Homo sapiens: one gene and its partners. The protein of the gene in region 1 binds, or shares a complex with, the protein of each later gene. Each region holds a gene or a part of one and is shown in the gene's direction. Other genes may lie near its edges. The genes, in order: DRC12, DRC9, DRC8 and DRC3.

What was found.
Region 2: DRC12 (region 1) and DRC9 share a complex: the UniProt entries of both Homo sapiens proteins name them as parts of the nexin-dynein regulatory complex.
Region 3: DRC12 (region 1) and DRC8 share a complex: the UniProt entries of both Homo sapiens proteins name them as parts of the nexin-dynein regulatory complex.
Region 4: DRC12 (region 1) and DRC3 share a complex: the UniProt entries of both Homo sapiens proteins name them as parts of the nexin-dynein regulatory complex.

Annotation. Positions count from the first base shown.
Region 1 is NC_000011.10:119,188,659-119,193,902, reverse strand, and holds the end of DRC12 (dynein regulatory complex protein 12), read left to right. Parts: intron 1-17; coding exon 18-137; intron 138-659; coding exon 660-752; intron 753-3,062; coding exon 3,063-3,193; intron 3,194-3,261; exon of another isoform or gene 3,262-3,336; intron 3,337-3,450; coding exon 3,451-3,603; 3' UTR 3,604-3,649; downstream 3,650-5,244. Other genes in the region: NHERF4 (Na(+)/H(+) exchange regulatory cofactor NHE-RF4), read right to left, coding at 4,411-4,440, 4,698-4,898, 5,036-5,244. UniProt on the Homo sapiens protein: Component of the nexin-dynein regulatory complex (N-DRC), a key regulator of ciliary/flagellar motility which maintains the alignment and integrity of the distal axoneme and regulates microtubule sliding in motile axonemes.
Region 2 is NC_000003.12:197,910,358-197,916,013, reverse strand, and holds part of DRC9 (dynein regulatory complex protein 9), read left to right. Parts: intron 1-1,971; coding exon 1,972-2,133; coding exon of another isoform or gene 2,134-2,178; exon of another isoform or gene 2,179-2,292; intron 2,293-2,518; exon of another isoform or gene 2,519-2,614; intron 2,615-3,264; coding exon 3,265-3,339; intron 3,340-5,656. UniProt on the Homo sapiens protein: Component of the nexin-dynein regulatory complex (N-DRC), a key regulator of ciliary/flagellar motility which maintains the alignment and integrity of the distal axoneme and regulates microtubule sliding in motile axonemes.
Region 3 is NC_000001.11:244,975,149-244,980,804, forward strand, and holds part of DRC8 (dynein regulatory complex protein 8), read left to right. Parts: intron 1-5,656. UniProt on the Homo sapiens protein: Component of the nexin-dynein regulatory complex (N-DRC), a key regulator of ciliary/flagellar motility which maintains the alignment and integrity of the distal axoneme and regulates microtubule sliding in motile axonemes.
Region 4 is NC_000017.11:18,002,448-18,008,103, forward strand, and holds part of DRC3 (dynein regulatory complex subunit 3), read left to right. Parts: intron 1-1,915; coding exon 1,916-2,047; exon of another isoform or gene 2,048-2,057; intron 2,058-3,735; coding exon 3,736-3,806; intron 3,807-4,576; coding exon 4,577-4,700; intron 4,701-4,950; coding exon of another isoform or gene 4,951-4,998; exon of another isoform or gene 4,999-5,487; intron 5,488-5,656. UniProt on the Homo sapiens protein: Component of the nexin-dynein regulatory complex (N-DRC) a key regulator of ciliary/flagellar motility which maintains the alignment and integrity of the distal axoneme and regulates microtubule sliding in motile axonemes.

The DNA of each region.
Region 1 (5,244 bases):
TCTGGGACTGCTCACAGCTCTACGGAGGGATGAAGCCCGTCGAGCCAAGGCTTCCGAAGACCAGCTGAGGCAGAGGCTGCAAGGGGTGGAGGCTGAGCTGGAAGGGGCCCGAAGTGAAGGGAAGGCCATATATGCAGGTGTGTGGTCGGTTAAGCAGGTGGGCAGGAGACAGGGGCTTGGAGGAGGACAACCAACAGGGTCAGTTGATGCAAGGAAGGGAAACAAGGAGGGCTTCCGACTGCCAGGCCTGGTCTTGGTCTTTCCCAAACAGTACAAATCAGGAAGGATCCTGCAGGAACCAAAGGCAGGTAGGTTCCTGGGATCCCAGGCAGGGGCCTTCCAGGATGCCTGGTGCCATGTGCTTGATGCTGTGTAGGATACACATGCAGTCATAGCCATCATCTCAATCAGCCCATGGGCGGGGAGAAGGGCTAGCATCCCCATCCAAAGCTGGACTGGGGGAGGTAGGTCGGGCTTCCTGTCCCTTCCTCAGGTTTTCATGGTCTGCAGCTTCTCAGAATCACAAAAAGAACCAAGAAGGCCTTTGTGCTCCTGTTCCACTAGACCAAGTAGAGTCTTCCCCACCCACAACTTCATTTCCTTTCTCCATCCCTCCATCTCCAACCTGGGTCCCTGGTGGCCCACTGCCCCCACCCCAGAGATGAGTCGCCAGTGCCATGCCCTGCAGGAGGATATGCAAACCCGCAGCAAGCAGCTGGAGGAAGAAGTCAAAGGCCTTCGGGGGCAGCTAGGTAGGTTTCCCCACCCTCCAAGCCCCTTCTCTCCAAGAGTTGCAGCAAGGGCCAGCATGAAGGGGTAGACTTCAAAGTCTCTGCTCCAGAAAGCTGCCGTCTGGGCTCTTGGATCACTTTCCCCACTTTCGCTGACCCTCCACCACTGAGGACTGCAGCAGAGGGTTCGGGATACCAAAAATCTCTGCTGTAAGTAAAGAAGAGGCTCCAGGCGCGGTGGCTCAGGCCTGTAATCCCAGCACTTTGGGAGGCCAAGGCGGGCGGATCACCTGAGGTCAGGAGTCCAGGAACAGCCTGGCCAAATGGCAAAACCCCGTCTCTACTAAAAATATAAAAATTAGCCGGATGTGGTGGCGCACACCTGTAATCCCAGCTACTCGGGAGGCTGAAGCAGGAGAATCGCTTGAACCCAGGAGGCAGAGGTTGCAGTGAGCCGAGATCACGCCATTGCACTCCAGCCTGGGCAACAGAGCAAGACTCTGTCTCAAAAAAATAAATAAAAATAAAAAAGAAGATGTAGGCCTCACACCCCATTTCCTCCTCTCAAGTCCAGCCCTAACTCCCCACCACTGCCATGTCTCTTGTGAGCAAAACATATTCCCTTTTAGTTTAGCTGATTTCTACAATGAAACTAAGGGGAAATGTTTGACTTATTTACTTCTGTATCTTCAAGACCTAGCATCTGGTAGATCCTAAATAACTGTTCACCAAATAAATGAATAAACACTCCTAATAAGCAAAAATATTTTTAAAAACCAGGAAGCCTTTGCTTCTCTTGTCTCTTGCTTACAAAATAATGTTGAAATATCTCAGCATGACACATGAGCTCTTTCACAATTTTGGTCTCAAAGTTTTCATACCTTAAAAATGCCTTCAACCGGGTGCGGTGGCTCACCCCTGTAATCCCAGCACTTTGGGAGGCCAAGGCAAGAGAATTGCTTGAGGCCAGGAGTTTGAGACCAGCCTGGCCAGTATGGTGAAATGCCATCTCTACTAAAATTACAAAAATTAGCTGAGCATGGTGGCGTGTGCCTGTAATCTCAGCTACTTGGGAGGCTGAGTCAGGAGAATCACTTGAACCCAGGAGGCGGAGGCTGCAGTGAGCCGAGATCGCACCACTGCACTCCAGCCTCGGCAACAGAGTAAGATTCCAACTAAAAAAAAAAAAAAAAAGGCCTTCGGTTTAGCTATAGATGGCCAGGAGCTGCTTATCTGCCATTCAGACTCTGGGTTCCTTTCCTAATCTTTGCTTTACCTCAAATTCCAAGTCAATCAATGACTCAATTGTTTTTGTTTTTGCTGTTGTTGTTTTGGGGATTTTTTTGTTTTTTGTTTTTTGTTTTGAGACGGAGTTTCACTCTGGTCGCTCATTCTGGAGTGCAATGGCAAATCTCGGCTCACTGCAACCTCCACCTCCTACGTTCAAGCAATTCTCCTGCCTCAGTCTCCCGAGTAGCTGGGATTACAGGTGTGCGCCACCATGCCTGGCTAATTTTTGTATTTTTAGTAGAGATGGAGATTCACCTATGTTGGCCGGGCTCGTTTCGGACTCCTGACCTCAGGTAATCCGCCCTCCTCGGCCTCCCAAAGTGCTAGGATTACAGGCGTGAGCCACCGCACCCGGCCAATGAATCAATGTTTACTGAGCACCTCCTGTATACTAGCTAGGTGCTTTGTCATCCATTTATCATGTTTAAAGGTCACAGCATGCCCCTGAGGGATGTGTCATTCTCTCTTTACAGATGAAGACACCAGCCAGCCGCGGTGGCTCACACTTGTAATCCCACCACTTTGGGAGGCCGAGGCGGGCGGATCACAAGGTTAAGAGATAGGGACCATCCTGGCCAACATGGTGAAACCCCATCTCTACTAAAAATTCGAAGATTAGCTGGGCATGGTGGCATGTGCCTGTAATCCCAGCTACTCGGGAGGCTGAGGCAGGAGAATTGCTTGAACCCAGGAGGTGGCAGTTGCAGTGAGCTGAGATCGCGCCACTGCACTCCAGCCTGGCGACAGAGTGAGACTCCATCTAAAAAAAAAAAAAAAGATGAAGACACCAAGGCTCAGAAAGAGACATGCATGTGGTCACCTAGGTAGTAATCCGACTTTGGAGCCTTCTATCTCAAGCCCGCCACTCTCTGCTATATACCTCAGTGGAGCTTCAGCTTTTACAGGGACTGCGGGAAATTTGGTGATGCTGGGGGAGTCTGGAACGAGCCCATTTGAGGTCTCCTTTCCAGATACCTTTGGAGAGACTGGTCAAGGATAGAGTGTCACCATCCTGCTCTCTTTCATCCTGCCTGCCCCCAGAGGCATGCCAAAGGGAGGCTGCAGCTGCCCGGGAAGAGGCTGAACAAGCTCTCGGAGAGCGGGACCAGGCCCTGGCTCAGCTTCGGGCCCACATGGCAGACATGGAGGCGAAGTATGAGGAAATCTTACACGTAAGCACCACCCCCTGGATCCCAGCCATCCCAGTACCCAGGACTCCCCCATGCCCACAAACCCCAGCTCGTATGATGACTGACAACCCAGGGTTAAGGAGAAGGAGCGTCTCCAAGGGAGCCCTGCTCTATCCTGAGGGCAGACAGAGGGGATACGACCATGTCTACTGGGCAAGGAAAGCTTATGAACCAACCTGGGGCAGCACTCACTCCTTCCCTCTCTCTCTTTCTGGGGTCTGAAATATTGATGTCTGCAGGACAGTCTGGACAGGCTCTTGGCCAAGCTGAGAGCCATCAAGCAGCAGTGGGATGGGGCAGCACTGAGACTTCACGCCAGGCACAAGGAGCAGCAACGCCAGTTTGGACTCACCCCCCCTGGATCTTTGAGGCCACCAGCCCCTAGTCTCTAGTGTTCTCTGAGGCCCCAGCAATAAAGTGTCTTGATGTAGAACTCAATAGAGCTGTGGGCTCTGGCCGTTTGGCAGAGAGAAGTGGATCTTATTTTTATTTTTATTTTTATTTAGTTTTCTTCTTTTTTTGTTTTTGTTGTTGTTTATTTTTAGGAGTGGCTGTCATACAGACATCTCAGTTCTGGGTTGACCCATTATCCCTGAGATTCAGTGATTGATAGGAAATAAATTTGACCAGGTCTCAACCTCTCTCCTGCAGGAGCCGCATCCCACCCCTTGAGCCTGAGGCCCTTTTGGTCCCTTCACACCACTGCCCCTTACCCCCACCAACACAAACACAGGCAGTCAGATTTATGGCGAATGGCCATTTCTATAACAAATGCAACGGTGACCAAGCACCACCCTCCCGCAATGCTAAGGCACCCACAGAGGGCAGGCATAGCTGGTCTCCAAATTTTTGCATTACACTCAAGGGTCCTGGAGTCATATCTAGAAAAGGTCCAGATGGCTTCAATCCTAGCCAGACCCACAGCCACACCTTCATCCTTGGGACACAGCTCTCTAAAACTCCCATATGACATCCTCTGGAGCCTCAGACTCCTTCAGGGACCTGTCTGAGGCCTCCAACCACACCCTCTGCTGGCAGGTGGGCCTGCAGGAAGGGAGGGAGCACCTGGGCCAGCCTGTGATCGGTGGTGTCTGAGTCCCTCTGGTCTGGCTTAGAGAGAGCATCCTGCCTTCACCACCTCAGGCTGGAGAGTGAAGACACGGTAGCCCCTGAGTATGTCTGTACCAAGCAGGGGTGCTCTACAGTAGATCCGAGGCCAGAGCCCAGTCCTATACAGAGAGAGGAGGTAGAAGGTCATTCCAGGTGGGACCCAGAAGAGTTCCTTTTTCTTGCCCCGCCCTGCACTGGAATGCCCAGAAATGGGGTTTATTTCACGAGTCCTTCTGTCCCCACCTACCACGACCTGAAGTCCCAACCTGCATACCCCACACGGCTTCACCTTGTACCTCGCCCACTCTGCCCTTCTTTCTCACTCCTCCCTGCCCTCTGTAGCTACTCACAGTCCCATCTGTTTCTTCTTCCTCACCTCTGCAGCCCCAGGGGGAATCCAGGCTTCCAAGCCCCGCAGAGACCTGGCTGCCAGCTTCAGGCAGAGGGGTGGCTCAGCCTCAGGCAGCTGCTGAAGCCTCTCCAGGTCATTCTGTCCCCCAACAGGATACCCGTTCACTTCCAGAATCACGTCTCCCACTTGCAGCCCAGCCCGGGCAGCTGAGCCTCCTGGAGTCACCTGGTGTTGTGGGGGCATGCAGAACAGGGGACACCGGGGGAAAGTTTGCTGGCTTTAGGCTCTGGGAGGGAAGCAGAGGAAGACCGATCAGGCAGCAAAGGATCGAAGGGATTCAAGATCCATGGGGCATCAGTCACCTGGGAGATGAAGAGACGAGGCCCACTGGCCACACAACTGAGTCGGAAGCCATAGCTGCCACCAGGCCCAGGGTACAGGAAGCACTGTCGGGAGCCAAGAGGGACAGAAGGCACGCTTGTGTCTTCAAGTGAAGGGTCCTCTGTCTCAACCAGTGAGGCTGAGCTGCTGCCCCGGGGCGAGGCGGGAGCCTCTGTGTTCTCCAAGAAGA
Region 2 (5,656 bases), on another chromosome or scaffold:
ATCCTGTCTCTAAACAAAAAAATTTTTTTAATACAAAAGAACTAATTCTACCCTACTTACATGGTTAAGACGAAAGGCAATTGGAGGCCAGGCGTGGTGGCTCACGCCTGTAATCCCAGCACTTTGGGAGACCGAGGCAGGTGGATCACCTGAGGTCGGGAGATCAAGACCATCCTGACCAATGTAGAGAAACCCCATCTCTACTAAAAATACAAAATTAGCTGGGTGTGGTGGTGAGCACCTGTAATCCCAGCTACTCAGAAGGCTGAGGCAGGAGGATCACTTGAACCTGGGAGGTGGAGCTTGCAGTAAGCCAAGATCATGCCACTACACTCCAGCCTGGGCAACAAGAGCGAGCCTCCATCTCAAAAAAAATGTAAAAAGAGAAGAAAGGCGGTTGGTATCTAGAGGAGCAGGTCTCGGGTTGAAGCACTTTTGTTGCTAGTCGTGTGCTTGTTTGCTGTGCCGTCAGGTCCCCTCCCTGTGGACTTACTCACACACTGATTCCGCCCAAACAGTTCTTTTCAAACAAATGTTACCTCCCTGACTAAAAGCTTTCCAAGGATTCCCATGACAGTTGGAATAAAATCTGAATTTCTCAGTTGGGTCTCCGGGGTCCTGTGTGGTGCCCTTACCGACCTCCAACCTCATCCTGTCCTCCCCTCAACCCTCACTAGGCTAGAGCCTCCGGAGCTTTCTTTCAGTTCCTGGAATGTATCCAGGTCTTGATTGCTTCAGGATTTGGGCATATACTTATTCTTTTTTTTTTTTTTAGAGTTCCCTTAACCCTATTTTTCTTTTCTTTTTCTTTCCTTTTTTTCTTTTTCTTTTCTTTTTTTTTTTTTTTTTTGAGACAGAATCTCGCTCTATCACCCAGGCTGGACTGCAGTGGCATGATCTCAGCTCACTTCAACCTCCACCTCCCGGGTTCAAGTGATTCTTCTGCCTCAGCCTCCCGAGTAGCTGGGATTACAGGCGCCCGCCACCACTCCCAGCTATTTTTCGTATTTTTAGTAGAGACGGGGTTTCACCATGTTGGCCAGGCTGGTCTCAAACTGCTGACCTCAGCTGGTCGCCATGCCTCAGCCTCCCAAAGTGCTGGGATTACAGGCGTGAGCCCCCGTGCCTGGCCAAGCCTATTTTTCATGTGGTGGGCTTACCTGTCCTTCAGGTATCGAATGAGCCATCGCTTTCCCGAGAGAGTCCTTCTCAGACCTTCCAGAGTCTAATGTACTCCTCCCTTGTTATTTCCTCCCACAGCCTCTCGAGCCTTCCTTTTCTATCATTTTGCACAATTTTTGGAAGTTTACACATGTGTTTGTCTCTTTTTAACCACCTCTCTTCTATTAGACTGTAAGCTCTATGAGGGAAGGGAATATGTCTGTTTAGATCTCCACAATTTTCCTAGCTCAGTGCCTGGTGCTGAATAAATATTTTTCTTAATGACTATTGAGTCCTCACAATTGCCAAGCACTTGGTGACCTGCAAAAAGAAAGCGTTTTCACACGTGTTCTCAAGGAAACCTAATAATCACTCTCTGAGATACTTCAGGCAGGTTGGGTGTTTGTATGTTTGTGTGTTTGTTTTATAGAAAGTAAAAAGTTGGAGATTTGACTTGGCCAAGTTCACACAGCTGGAGGCCTGGGTGGGAAGTCAGTTCTTTTGATCATTTTGACCAGTGTTCTTCCTACCAAAATGAGAAAGCTGTGTGGGACATACGGAGTACAGCAATAATGTGCCTGGGAACTAATCTCACAGCCCTGATGCGCCCTGATTCTTAGAAATGCTGTGTTACTCACTTTCATCTATACACTTCATGATTGTTGGCTAAATTTCCCATTGTGTGACAGCGGAAAAATAGTTCCAGTTCCTTATTGATTTATACGCATAAAAGGGAACCGTAAGCCGCTGACTGAACTGAATGGAGGTAGAATGTATTTTCAATTTAGAAACCTGGTCTTTCCACTACAGAGTCAGAATGAGTATATTGCTAACCTCAAGGACCAACTGCAAGAGATGAAGGCAAAATCCAACTTGGAGAATCGCTACATGAAAACCAATACCGAGCTGCAGATTGCCCAGACCCAGAAAAAGTGTAACAGAACAGAGGAACTCTTGGTGGAAGAGATTGAGGTAATCCCTGGGACATTAGCCAAGAACCCAGGAGATGGCAATTGAGCTGTCACTCCTGATCCCCTCTCAGCTAACAAAGGAGGGAGACAAAGATTTCCCTCCATCTCTATCGGCAACAGCCCCTCCACTTGAGGTTGAAAATAAAAGCCTAAATGAGGATATGCGTGTTCGCAAGCAGAGATTCCAGTGGGCTGTAGCCTCCATCTCCCGCCTCATAATGACTTTGAAAATTGGCTGCACTTTCTCTCCTTGGTCACTTCTTATTTTGGCAAACCAATCACCATTTTTCTGACTAATTATAGGGAGAGGGCAAAACGAGGTGCTTAGTTATGGCAGGATTTTGCTGCTGTTTCTTTCATCTAACCAGTACCTTTCACTCCTCCAGTAAGAAATACAGCATCGAGAGCGCTGAACTTCGTTCAAACCTGAGTTTATAGGATGAGAAGTCACGGTGAAAAATGCCAGGAGGAAGAAAGAAGTGGTAGATCTTCTTTGAGGGGAATGCTAAATGGCACACACGCACGCACGCACACACGCACGCACGCACGCACGCACACACGCAAAGCCAGGCACTAGTCCCAGCTAATCGGAGGTGAGGCAGTGAGGCAGGAGGATCCTTGAGTTTGAAGCCAGCCTGGGCAACTTCAGACTTCAACTAGGGAGACTCCCTTCTCACAAAAAAGAAAAGAAAACAAGAAAGAGCAGCAGGCAGATGGGAAGAGGGAAGCAGGAACAAACGTCCTTGGGCCGTGGAATCTGTGTGTGGGAGGACTCCTCGCTCTGAGACTGACGTGGCTCAAGGCCACGTCAACACTCTTCCTGGCACTCCGGAATCCCCCTTTTTAAGCCCCACAGCCTTGTGCCCTTGGAGCGCCGTTTCTGTCCTTCAGTGGGCACCTCTGTTCAGCTCACGGGATTGTGCTCGTCTCGTTAGGGACACACGCAGTCCACACAGTGCCGCGCCACGTGGCTCTGCAGTGTTGGTGAACAGGAGTTGCAGGGAACTGAAAGCCCGGGATCCCAGCTGGTAAAGGGAGCCTCAGCTACCGACCGAGCTGCTGCTCTCATCTTGAGAACTTCTGATTCCCAGCCCTGCGGGGAAGACGTACTGGTATCTGATTGTTCTTACAGAAACTCAGGATGAAAACCGAAGAAGAGGCCCGGACTCATACAGAGATTGAAATGTTCCTTAGAAAGGAGCAGCAGGTGGGTCCCCACAGCTTTTCTATGCTTTGACTTTTTTTTTGTACTCTGCTTATACTGAGGAAACAAAAAGAATATTTTGAAGGAAAACCAACCATCATTCTTTCAGCCTAATGAACTTTAGCTCATGTTTTCTTTCAGGGTTATGCATCTGAATAGATATCTTATATAGCTGTAATTTGAGAGAGTGCAGGTAAAATTTTGTTTTCTGCTTTTATCATTGAGCTTACATAAGAAATTTTTCGATTTCTATATTGCTGTATACTCATAATTTTCAAATTATGACTTAATTTATGACTTAAAATTTATTAAGTCAAATTATGACCTACAAATTTATGGGCTGGGCACAGTGGCTCACGCCTGTCATCCCAGCACTTTGGGAGGCCGGGGAGGGTGGATCACCTGAGTTCAGGAGTTTGGGACCAGCCTGACCAATATGGTGAAACCCTGTTTCTATTAAAAAATACAAAAATTAGCCGGGCATGGTGGTGCGCCTGTAATCCCAGCTATTCAGGAGGCTGAGGTGGGAGAATTGCTTGAACCTGGGAGGCAGAGGATGCAGTGAGCTGAGATCACGCCACCGTACTCCAGCCTAGGCAACAGAGCGAGACCCCGTCTCAAAAACAAAAACCAAAAAAAGACATAATTTTTAAATTAATTATTTTTAAATTATGACTATATTTAAAAATTTTTCCCAATAGTATAGTGGCCAATAAATAAAAAAGAAAAATAAATAAAGGCCGGACATGGTGGCTCACGCCTGTAATCCCAGCACTTTGGGAGGCAGAGGCCAGCGGATCACCTGAGGTCAGGAGTTCGAGACCAGCCTGGCCAACATGGAGAAACCCCGTCTCTACTAAAAATACAAAAATTAGCCAGGCATGGTGGCGGGCGCCTGTAATCCCAGCTACTCAGAAGGCTGAGGCAATAGAATCGCTTGAACCCAGGAGGCAGAGGTTACAGTGAGCCGAGATCATGCCACTCACTCCAGCCTGGGCAACAGAGCAAGAATCTGTCTCAAAAAAAAAAAAATTTACTAATCTTTTACACTATAAAAATAACATTCCCAGTTGAGTGAAGATTTTTAAAATTACTCATTGCTTTTCATTTTTTATGTTATTACAGTTTCTTTATAAAATAATTGAAAATTGTGTTTAACGTTCCATTGAATGGTTGTGCCACAGTTTATTTGTTACACTTTTTTTTTATATTTAGGTTGTTTCTAAAGTTTGTTATTATAAATAATGCACTCATTAAAGCTTTGCCCAAAGAACTGTTTTTCTTCATGGCAACTATTTACTAAAAGCCAATCTCAGTCATGAGATTTTTGTTTCAGAGACTAGTATTTTGTGACTTTTAATAAACATTGCTAATACTCTCGAATCTGTGCTGCCGTTAGCAGTGTTGCAGGCAGTAATTTCAAGGTCTCTTCAATATTAGTAGCCATTTTCAATATTTTTCAAAGTCTGCTAATTTAATGAGTTGTTTTATTTTTTATTTTTGCTTATTAACAGGTGAACATAACATTTTTCCACATGTTTACTCAATTTATTTCTTCTTGTGTGAAATATATATGACACGGTGGTTTTAAGAGCATTTTCAATACTAATAACCAAGCTGGGTCTATAATATATCTAAGGTTAGAATTATGTCTAAGTCTACCTGGAGTCTTTCTTTCTTTTTTTTTTTTTTTTTGTTTTGTTTTTGAGATGCAGTCTTGCTTTACTGCCCAGGCTGGAGTGCAGTGGCGTGATCTTGGCTCACTGCAACCTCGGCCTCCTGGGCTCAAGCGATTCGCCTGCCTCAGCCTCCTGAGTAGCTGGGATTACAGGCGCACGTCCAGCTAATTTTTGTATTTTTAGTAGAGATGGGGTTTCACTGTGTTGACCAGGCTGGTCTAGAACTCCTGACCTCAGGTAATCCACCTGCCTCGGCCTCCCAAAGTGCTGGGATTACAGGCGTGAGCCACCGTGCCCAGCCCCAGCTGGAGTCTTTCAAAATAACCCTATTGGATGAATAAAGAGAAAATTTTCCAGCTTAGTTATAATACAGCTTGCCTTTGGAAAAAGCTAATGAGTTTTCAGTCAAGGATTCCAAATGTGTGGTTAAAGAGGAGAATTTGTAGATGCTCTCTTGCAGGTCTTTACTGAAAAAAATACCTGGTAGGCTATTAGAATTAGGGTTCTGTAGCCCTGCACTTTAAGAATTATGTATCATGTTACCTGTTTCAAGTGTGAGATACCTGGCAGGTGTTGGATATTTATCAGTGAGTTGGTAGATAAATGGATCACGAAGGGATGACGCCAGAGTTTCCCAGATC
Region 3 (5,656 bases), on another chromosome or scaffold:
CTCGATCTCCTGACCTTGTGATCCGCCCACCTCGGCCTCCCAAAGTGCTGGGATTACAGGCGTGAGCCACCACGCCTGGCTCGAACTCTTGAGCTCAAGTGATCTGCCTGCCTTGGCCTCCCAAAGTGCTGAGATTACAGGCATGAGCCACCCTGCCTGGCCTCATAGTAACTGTCGATAGTATAGAGTGTAGCCTGTGGGACAGTACAAAGGTTGAGCTTTGAAGTAAGACTTGAATTTGAATTCCGTCTTCCCCAAGCTCTAATTATCTGATCTTAGCCGAGATGCTAAACATAAGTAGCTTCAAGTTCCTCAGATGTAAAGTGGGGATAATTATACCCCCAATATTTCATAATGTTGTAATGGGGACAATGTTTTCTTATTCATTTTTACATCCCCAGCACCTGCCACAGTGCCTGGCATCAAAGGAATGCTGAGGCCGGCTCACGCCTGTAATCCTAGCACTTTGAGAGGCCCAGGCAGGTGGATCACTTGAGGTCAGGAGTTCAAAACCAGCCTGGCCAACATGGTGAAACCCTGTCTCTACTAAAAATACAAAAAATTAGCTGAGTGTGGTGGCGCGTGCCTGTAATCCCAACTACTCAGGAGGCTGAGGCAGGAGAATCGCTTGAACCCAGGAGGTGGAGGTTGCAGTGAGCTGAGATCACACTACTGCACTCCAGCCTGAGTAACAGGGTGAGACTCTGTCTCAAAATAAATAAATAAATAAATAAAAAATACAATAAAGGAATGCTGAATAAATGGGAAAGAAAGTGTTTGGTACGTATCTAGTGAATTAGTAAGTATTAGTATCTGCTTAACATAAAACATAAGAGTTGGCCAGGCGTGGTGGCTCCTGCTTGTAATTCCAGCACTTTGGGAGGCCGAGGTGGGGAGATCACCTGAGGTCAGGAGTTCGAGACCAGCCTGACCAACATGGTGAAACGCTCTCTCTACGAAAAATACAAAAATTAGTTGGGTGTGGTGGTGGTTGCCTGTTATCCCAGCTACTCTAGAGGTTGAGGCAGGAGAATTGCTTGAACCTGGGGGATGGAGGTTGCAGTGAGCCTAGATCGCAGCATTGCACTCCAGCCCAGGCAACAGAGCAAGACTCCATCTCAAAACAAAAAAACAAATAAAACATAAGAGTTAAGAAAACTTTTAAGTCTTACCAATTGGGATCATGCATAATGCATTCCTGCATATTTCTGGGGTAATTTAATAAGTTTTCTTCCTGTTTTAGACCAATATAAATATCCGGTTAAGACTAAGCAAACAAGAAGACTAGCTTTTTGAAGCCTAATTTGTTTCCTCTTATTCAGAATAAAAAAAAATTTGAAGAAAAACTGGACTGAAATTTGTTTTTGCTCTGATATATAAAATTTACAGAAATGTCTCAAGAATAGTCATAATTTTAAAGATCAAATGGACAGTGAGATACTACCTCACGCCTGTTAGGAAGGCTATTATCACCAGAAGTCCCCCAAATAATAAGTATTGGTGAGGATGTGGAGAAACTGGAACCCTCGTGGACTGTTGGTGGCAATGAGAAATGGTGCAGCTACTATGGAAAGTGGTATGGCGGTTCCTCAGAAAGTTAAAAGTTGAGTTACCATGTGACCCAGCAGTTCCACGTGTGGGTATATATCCACAGTAATTGAAAGCAAGGCCTCGAAGAGATATTTGCACAACCATGTTCATAGCACATTGTTCACAGTAGGTAAAAGGTGGAAGCAAGCCAAGTGTCCATCAGCGGATGAATGAACAAACCAAATGTGGTATATACGTGTAGTGAAATATTATTCAGCCTTCAAAGGAGGAAATTCTGACACATGCTACCGCTTGAATGAACCTGAAAGACATCATGCTAAGTGAAATAAGCCAGTCAAAAAGACAAATACTCTGTGATTCCACTTACATGAGGTACCTAGAGAAGTCAAATTCATGGAGACAGAAAGTAGATTGCTGGTTGCCAGGGGCTGTGGGGAGAGGAGAATGGGAAGTTGTTTAAGGAGTGTAGAGTTCCAGTTCTGCAAGATGAAGGAAGTTCTGGAGATTGGTTGCCCAGCAGTGTGAAGGTACTTAACACTATTGAACTATATGGTTAAAAGTGGTTAATACAGTAAGTTTTACATTATGTGTATTTTACCACATTTTAGTAAATAGAAAATGTTGAGTACATTCAGAATGAAAGAAATGGTACATTGTTTTTCAAAGGCAATTTGGAAATTTGTATTGAAGAATAAATGATGATGGCTAGGCAAGGTGGCTCACATCTGTAAACTCAGCACTTTGGGAGGCTGAGGTAGGAGGATTACTTGAGACCAGGAGTTCGAGACCAGCCTGGGCAACATGCTGAGACCTCATCTTTGCTAAAAATAAAATAAATAATAATAAAGAAGTCGGGGGTTCCCTCTGTTGGCTTTGGAGCCCCCATCCCTCTGTCTCTGTACAGGGAAGCTTCTTCCTTCTCCTTTCTTGCTCCTTCTTGCCTGTTAAACTCTCTATTTCTTAAAACCAAAAAAATAAAAAATAATAATAAAAAGTGATGTCCACATGCTTTGAGCTTTAATATACTTCTGGATATTTATCCTTAGAAATATATTCTGAAAAGAATAAAAAATGCTCTAAGCACAAAAATGATCAACATAAAGTTATCTATAAATTTGAAAATATAGATAACATTTGCATGTCCAACTAATGGGGCATACAAAATAAATGGTTGTATGTCCACTTGTTGGGTTGCAGCCAAATATATAAAAATTATATGTGTAAATGGGTAAGGACACGTGGGGGAGCCCAGGAGATGATGATGATAGCAGGGTGATTAGACTTTTAGGGGCACTTATTTTTAAAATCTCATTTTAATGTCAGTTCTACAAAACTTTAAAAACCCACTTAAATATGCTAATTAAAAATTATTCTTACCCACTTGTGAAAGTGTGTTTACCAGATCCTGTACTTGACAATCCTTTGTAAACCTCTAGTATGGATTTTATAGATATTAAGACTGTAAAAAAGTAATTTTAGTTTTTATTTTTATTTTTTAAGAGATGAGATCTAGGCCGGGCGCAGTGGCTCACGCCTGTAATCTCAGCACTTTGGGAGGCTGAGGCTGGCGGATCGCCTGAGGTTGGAAATTCAAGACCAGCCTGGCCAACACGGGAAAACCCCGTCTCTATTAAAAATACAAAATTAGCTGGGCATGGTGGCGCATGCCTGTTATCCCAGCTACTCGGGAGGCTGAGGTAGGAGAATCACTTGAACCCGGGAGGCGGAGGTTGTGATGAGCTGAGAGCACCATTTTACTCCAGCCTAGGCAACAAGAGCGGAACTCCGTCTCAAAAAAAAAAAAAAAAGAGACGAGGTCTCACTCTGTCACCCTGGCTGGGGTGCAGTGGCTTGATCACAGCTCACTGTAGCCTCTACTTTCTGGGCTCAAGTGATCTTCCCACTTTGGCCTCCCAAGTAGCTGGGACTGCAGGGGCGTGCCACTGTGCCCAACTAACATTTTTATTTTTGGTAGAGATAAGATCTTGCTCTGTTGCCCAGGCTAGTCTCAAACTCCTGGCCTCAGGCAATCCTACCACCTTGGCCTCCCAAAGTGCTGGGATTACAGGCTTGAGCCACCACCTCTGGCCCATAATTTTATTTTTTTAAATGCACTAGTAAAATTGGGAGTTTAAAAACCTGGACTAGAATTTGGACATTGCCTTTTTTTTTATTCTTTTTAAGATTTTGCTTGTTAGTGTCAATTTATCTGACCTTTGGTTTGAAGAATTTCCATCTAAAGAGGAAGATAGGCAGCTAAGGAGACAATGATACAATAATGTGATAAGTGCTATGATAGTTGCACATGTATGATGATTGGGTGCCTGGGGAGAGTCACCTGATTCACACACACCCTCTTTAAATTATAGCCCCTTTTTATTCCCTCTCATAGCTATTTGTTTTTTTCCTCTTTCATACTATATTTTGTAATTGCCTGTAGATGTGTTGTTTGATGTCTGCTTCTCCTAGACTCTTAACTTCCAAAAGGATAGGGGTCATGCTCATGCATATACCCAGAGCATGGCATATAGCTCAGTATTTGCTGAATGTTGAATCAAAGTTGGCTTTCTGAAGGAGATAACCGAAGCTTATCTTTTTTTTTTTTTTTTTTTTTTTTTTTTTTGAGACGTAGTCTTGCTCTTGTCGCCCAGGTTGGAATGCAGTGGCGTGATCTCGGCTCACTGCAACCTCTGCCTCCTGGGTTCAAGCGATTCTTATGTCTCAGCCTCCCAAGTAGCTGGGATTACAGACATGTGCCACCATGCTGGGCTCATTTTTTTATATTTTTAGTAGACGGGGTTTCACCATACTGGCCAGTCTGGTCTCGAACTCCTGACCTCAAATGATCCGCCTGCCTTGGCCTCCCAAAGTACTAGGATTACAGGTGTGAGCCACTGCGCCTGGCCTAATTTTTGTATTTTTAGTAGAGACGGGGTTTCACCATGTTGGCCAGGCTGGTCTGGAACTCCTGACCTCATGTGATCCGCCCACCTTGGCCTCCCAAAGTGTTGGTATTACAGGTGTGAGCCACGACTCCCAGCCCCAGGCTTATCTTGAAGGTGTAATAGCACAGAGAACAAGTAGGGGATGGATATTTCAGGAAGAGAAGAAATAACATACTTGAAATTGTGAAGACTCAATATGGCCGAAATTTAGGATGGGTTAGGAGATGTGGGAATTTTTATTCTTAAAGCATTGGTGAGTGATTAAAAGTTTTTAACAAGGCCGGGTGCAGTGGCTCACGCCTGTAATCCCAGCACTTTGGGAGGCCGAGGCAGGTGGATCACGAGGTCAGGAGATCAAGACCATTCTGGCTAACACGGTGAAACCCCGTCTCTACTAAAAAAAAAAAAAAAAAAAAAAAAAAAAATTAGCTGGGCGTGGTGGCAGGTGCCTGTAGTCCCAGGTACTTGGGAGGCTGAGGCAGGACAATGGCGTGGACCCAGGAGGTGGAGGTTGCAGTGAGCCGAGATCACGCCACTGCACTCCAGCAAGGGCAACACAGCGAGACTCCGTCTCAAAAAAAAAAAAAAAAAAGTTTTTAACAAGATGGGAGGCTGAGGCAGGATAATCACTTGAACCCGGGAGGTGGAGGTTGCAGTGAGCCAGGATTGCACCACTGAACTCCAGCGTGGCTGACAGAATGAGACTCTGTCTAAAAAATAAAAATGAAAAAATAAAAAATAAAGTTTTTTTTAGCAAGAGACAATCATATTTGTTGTCTAGAAAAATCACTTGGGCAAGTGTGCTCAGTGGATTAGATGGACTCCAGGTTTGGGACTCCAGGTTTGTCCCAGTATAGTAGTCCAGAAAGATAAAACCCTGAACCAAAGTAATGGAAGTCAGGAATGAAACAAGGAGATAGGCTAGAGGAAATGGATAGATTTTGTAATAGGACAGATATGAATATTGAGTCAGGTCAGGGACACGGTTTCTGATTGGGTAACAAAGAATAAAGAGGAATAGTAGAGTTATGTAAATAATAGTTCTAGTCTTGCACATGTTGAGTTTGGGTGCCTGTGAGGCATTCAGGTTGAGATATAACATAGGCAGCACTGTGTGCTTGGTACCTAAATATCTGTTGAATGAAAAATGAGAATGATGT
Region 4 (5,656 bases), on another chromosome or scaffold:
GTCAGTGCTGTTTGGACCCCAGGTTGCCATATACCCTCTGAGCACCCCCTCATTCCAAAGGGCTCAGCATCTATTTAGCAGTAGCTTCCACTTGCTCACTGGGGTTCTGTGTGGGTTCAATTCATCTCCTCAAAGACTGGAACTGTCTTTCCTTGCCAGGGTCTTTCCTGGCCTGTGCCTGTGATAGGCCTTTTATAGGAGACTCCGGTAGCCGAGCTCCACTGTGCACCAGGTGCTTCCTGTACACGGCCTCTGATCCCCAGGACCCCGTGAGGCAGAGATGCTTCTCCCCATTTACAGTGAGGAAACTGAGTCAGCGAATGAAAGTGGGTCTCTCAAGGTCACACTGTTAAGTGACCCAGGCAGGATTCAAATTCAGGTTCACCTAACTCTGAAGTTGTAAGGCAGGTAAATTTTTTCCTCTAGCTTATCAGGGTCACTGACTGGGACCAAGAATTAAACTGACATAAGACAAACGAGAAAAGCATACAAATTTTATTGAGTAATTTGTACATGTACATGGGAGCATTCACAAGCAAAATGAAGGCTCAAGAAGCCGTTAGGGCCGAAAGCTTATATACTTAGTTGGACAGAGAGTAGTGAATTGTGAGAACGTGACAAGACAAAGAGGTTTGGGCTAAGGCAGTTCATCGTGGAGAAGTGACAAGGCAGATGAGCGTTAGTTTAACAAGGTTTGTTCACACAGATTCCCCTTGGCCCGGACTCCCTCCCTCTGATGATAAGAATGGCTTCTTGGCTGGGCACAGTGGCTCACACCTGTAATCTCAGCACTCTGGGAGGCCGAGGTGGGTGGATCATGAGGTCAGGAGTTCAAGACCAGCCTGGCCAAGATGGTGAAACCCCGTCTCTACTAAAAATACAAAAAAAATTAGCCGGTCATAATGGCAGGTGCCTGTAATCCTAGCTACTCAGGAGACTGAGGCAGAGAATTGCTTGAACTCAGGAGGCAGAGGTTGCAGTGACCGAGATCGTACCACTGCACTCCAGCCTGGGTGACAGAGTGAGACTACGTCTTTAAAAAAAAAAAAAAAAAAAAAAAAAAAAAAAAGAATGGTTTCTTTCCTCCTGGTACAGGGAGGGCACCTTTCCCATGGGAGATTTAACTTCTGCTTTCAGGAAGAAAAAGGGAGGTCAGGGTGTCCTCTTTGCATTTTCTGTTTTTAAGTATCTTTTTTTTTTTTTTTTTTTTTTTGAGACAGAGTCTCACTCTGTCGCCCAGGCTGGAGTGCAGTGGCACAATCTCGGCTCACTGCAAGCCCCACCTCCCAGGTTCACGCCATTCTCCTGCCTCAGCCTCCCAAGTAGCTGGGACTACAGGCACCCGCCACCATGCCTGGCTAATTTTTTTTTTTTTTTGTATTTTTAGTATAGATGGGGTTTCACTGTGATAGCCAGGATGGTCTCAATCTCCTGACCTCATGATCCACCCACCTCGGCCTCCCAAAGTGCTGGGATTACAGGCATAAGCCACTGCTCCCGGCCTTTAAGTATCTTTAACTCAAAATAATCACTATGCCAAAGCGGCATATTTTGGTGTGAAATGCTCTGAACCCCATGAAAGCCATGGCTCCTTCTACCCTGCCTACCAGCCTCTAATAAAAACCTGAGCTTACAGGGAGTGAGCACTTGCTAGTGCTCAAAGAGCCTCACATGTGTTCTCTCACTTGTGTCAAGGGTAGGGGCTATCAATCGCACTTTACAGACCAGGAAACTGAGGCATGGAGAGGGTAGGTAGCTTCTACACGCTTTCAGAGCCAGCAAATGGCAAAGCTGAGACTTGCACTTGGGCAGGCTGACTCGAGTCCAAATTCTTACCCACAAAACCAAATTGCCACCTGCCATTATCTAATTACACTTAGTTGTTGATTCCTAAAGTGCAGTCTATTGTTTCTAGAGTTTAAGTGCCATTCGAGAGGAGTTGGAACTGCCCAACATTGAGAAGATGATCCTAGAATGCAGTGCTGACATCAGTGAGTTGTTCGATGCGCTCATGACGCTGGAGATGCAGCTGGTGGAGCAGCTGGAGGTAAGGCTGGGCCCTGGGCACAAGTGCCAGAATCTGGCGATGCAGCTGCACATCCATAGGTGAACTGTAGCCTTCATGGGCACGCCTCTGCTGGAAACGTCCAGCACGACTCAGCGTGGCAGGCTGTAGCTTTCTTGCTCATCAGTCCTGTTTGCTTTTATTACATTTTAATCATTTACATTGGAAGTGATTCTTGTGGAAAATGAGAGGTGAGCTCATTCTTCTGAAATGGTCCCCCTATCCTGGAAGTCAGTGGGGAGAGGTTTTTGATTAGACCCCTGGAGCTATCCGGGTACTCTAAAGGCAAAGCGCACCCCCACTTGGGGACCAAACAAAGACCCCTCCGCATTGCAGCCTGCAGTTGCCGCTTCTCAGGTGACGTGAGGAGGCTGCAACTCAGCACTAAGTAGTGAAAATGAAAAGCGCCGCTGTCTGAAATTCATTAGCAGCCAGAGTATGTGTTACAAGGCAGCGGAGGCTGGGAGTCTGAAGTGGTGTGATGAATTGAACCTCATCGGATGCTGCTGTGGCTGGGCCAAGTGATAGCACCTAATCAATTCCTCACACGTCAAGTGACACCTCAGACATGGGATAGATTTCCCCATCACATCACAGGGCAGGTGCTCCCTCCCTGCTGGAGAGCACAGGCACTGCAGAAGCAGCGCACAGTGCCAGGGGCGAGTGAGGCAGCAGCTCCCAGCCTTTTCAGGCACGGAGATTGCCTTTCAACATCCAAACATTTCCCAGAACCCATGTGCCATCCTACTTGTATTACTGGTGGCCAGAAAGCCACAAGCGCAATCATGCTTTTCAATGACCCTATTTTTATTCACGAGAACAGCACATACATGTGTTTGAAAATTATGTGAGGTGCTCACTCTGCAGACAGTACTCACATTCCTATAGATTCCACCCCTGCCCACCTTGCAGCCCCTGGAGTCTATAGCAGATGGGAGTGGGGCACTCCGAGAGTGGCAGGCCTGGAGATCACATCTTCCATTGTTCCTTCAATCAACACTAACTCCCATTTGGGCCTTAGGTGCCTTGCTAAGCACCACAAAACAGCAACTAACTGAAAGAGATCTGGAGTGCCAGCCCGCTCCTACTGAGGGCCTCCTCTCTGTCAGGCACCTTGCAAAGCATTTTGTGTGAAGTGACTCATTTAACCTCACCACAACGCCACAACGCAGGGATTATGCAGGTAACCTATTTCCCAGATGAGGAAGATAAGGCCCAAGGAGGTGAAATGCCTTTCCCAGAGTTACACAGAGTGCTGGAGCTGGGAATACTGACCCAGGCAGTCTAGCTCTTAACAGCTCACTCCACTGTTTCCCTGGAGGTGATGCACAGATGTCACTGGGAAACCCAAAGGAGAGGGGGTTGGCTGTGTGTGTGTGTGTTGGGCAGGCAGGTAAGGGGAGTAAGACCAGGACAAGTGTTCCTGGCAAAGTTCCGGTGACAGCATTAAACATTCAGATGGTGAGGGAGTTAATATGGTTGGAGAACAACAACTTTAGAGAGAGCAGAGGGGTCAGTTCACAACCATCTGCTCAGGAGGGTCAAGATGGGTGGTCTTTATGCTGAAGGTCTGTGATTAGAGGAGCTGGTTGCTAAATTTTGAGGAGTACCTTTTGCTCTGTGCTGGACATCTAAATATGCATGTTAACTGTGTTCTTTAACATTTCCAGGAGACTATAAACATGTTTGAAAGGAACATTGTTGACATGGTAGGACTGTTTATCGAAAATGTCCAAAGCCTATATCCTTTCTGTGATGACCTTCCCCATGGGGAGGTGCTACAGAGCCCCTGGGCTTGTCCCGGCCTCTGGACAAAAGAATGTTCCACAGGGTCTGAGGAGGTTTCCCGACCCTCAGAACAATGATGGCCTGGTTAGAGCTGTGGTTTGGATGCCCAGAGGGACAACATCCAAACTGTTTGCAGTAGGCTCCCAGCATGATTGTTCTCATATGAGTGATGTTCACTAGGAAATGACGCCCCCTGTGTTGCAGGCAAGCACACTCTGGGGTTGAGGCAACCCCCACGTGGAAGACACTATAAGGAGTACATCAGGTGAAATGTTAGGGTGAGGAGCCAACATCGGAGCATGGCCAACCCTTCTTCCACCCGAACTCAGGGCACTCCACATGGGGCAAACTGCTGTGCTCCAGCTAGCAGCAGCCCTGTGGTCCTGCCCTCCTGGGGCTCACAGTCCCTCAGGGAGACAAGTTGTAGAGGCAACAAGTGGTGCCAAATGCACAGGGTGAGAAGCAGTTAACCCAGAGGCCAGGAGCCTCCATGCAGGAGGGAGAGAAGAGTGTGATGGCAGGGGCCGAGGGTCCGTCCGAGGTGTGGGGCAGGGGCAGGGAGTCGAGGAAGGCCCAGGGTTCGGAGCTTGTGAGTGGACGGTGCTGCCAGCCAGAATTTCCGAGCTCGCCTTGGGCCCTTAAAGTCTGTCTCCCGCCGTCTGAGAGCATCAGGGACGCGCCGGGCCTGCTCCTCCCGGGCCTTTGCTTAACTCGGGGCTGCACGATGGCTCAGTGCCGGGACCTGGAGAATCACCACCACGAGAAGCTCCTGGAGATCTCTATCAGCACCCTGGAGAAGATTGTCGAGGGCGACCTGGACGAGGACCTGCCTAACGACCTGCGCGCGGTAGGCGGGGCGGGCTGCTCGGAGCCTGACAGATGTGGTCCAGCCCAGCTCTGTGGCTGGACTGAGGCTCTGTGAGTAAGCCTGACAACCTCCCAGAGCCTCAGTGTTCTCATCTGCAAAAGGGCACACTAACCTGCTTTACAGGGTTGCTGGCAGATAAAATAGGCTAACAAAGCACCTGGTGGGGCACCCAGTGGGGCCCAGTTAAAGAGGAGCTCATGATAATTAGATGGTTTCAACTTTCCAACAGGGTCGTTTCCAAAAGTTCAATTATGTGGAGGCTTCTGGCACTTTCTAAGAGAAGCAGTTACAGGTAGAGGTTGAAGTCTGAGATTTCCCCTGGAGGTCTTCTTAACCTTAGAGTCTGTATAATGAGTACTGTGGGGGTGTTGGAACCACCATTTCTGATCCTGCACAATGCCATCCGGTTTGCACCAGCACATCCACTGATGAATGGTCACAAAATCAGCAGGGTCGGCCTGAGGAACCTGGCTCCATCCCTGGGGTCTGCACGCTAAGAAGGCTCTCCCGGATGTCTGCGCTGGGTCCCGCGGCAGCATGTCTATGTCTCTGGAAGGAGTGTGGGCATCAAGGGCCCAGACAGAGATACTATGTTGTCAGGGCCCAGACAGAGATACTATGTTGTCAGGGCCTGCTTTAGTGCATGCATCATTCACTCCACTGCCAGTTTCTCAGCTTCTCTCTGTCGCGACATCACCACCAAGGCAAGCCACCATCGTCCTTGGCCTGGACTGCTTGCCTCTTTACTGTCCTCTTACAGTCCGTCCTCCATGTGGCAGCCAGAGGGACCCTTGAAAACCCAAACCCTATCACTGCACACTTTTACACAACACCTTCTAGTGGCTTTCATGACCCCTAGCGTCAGCTCCTCCCCATAGTCCCCCAGACCCTCGGGCTGACCCTGCCCATCTGGGCGATTCCCACCCCCAGAACCC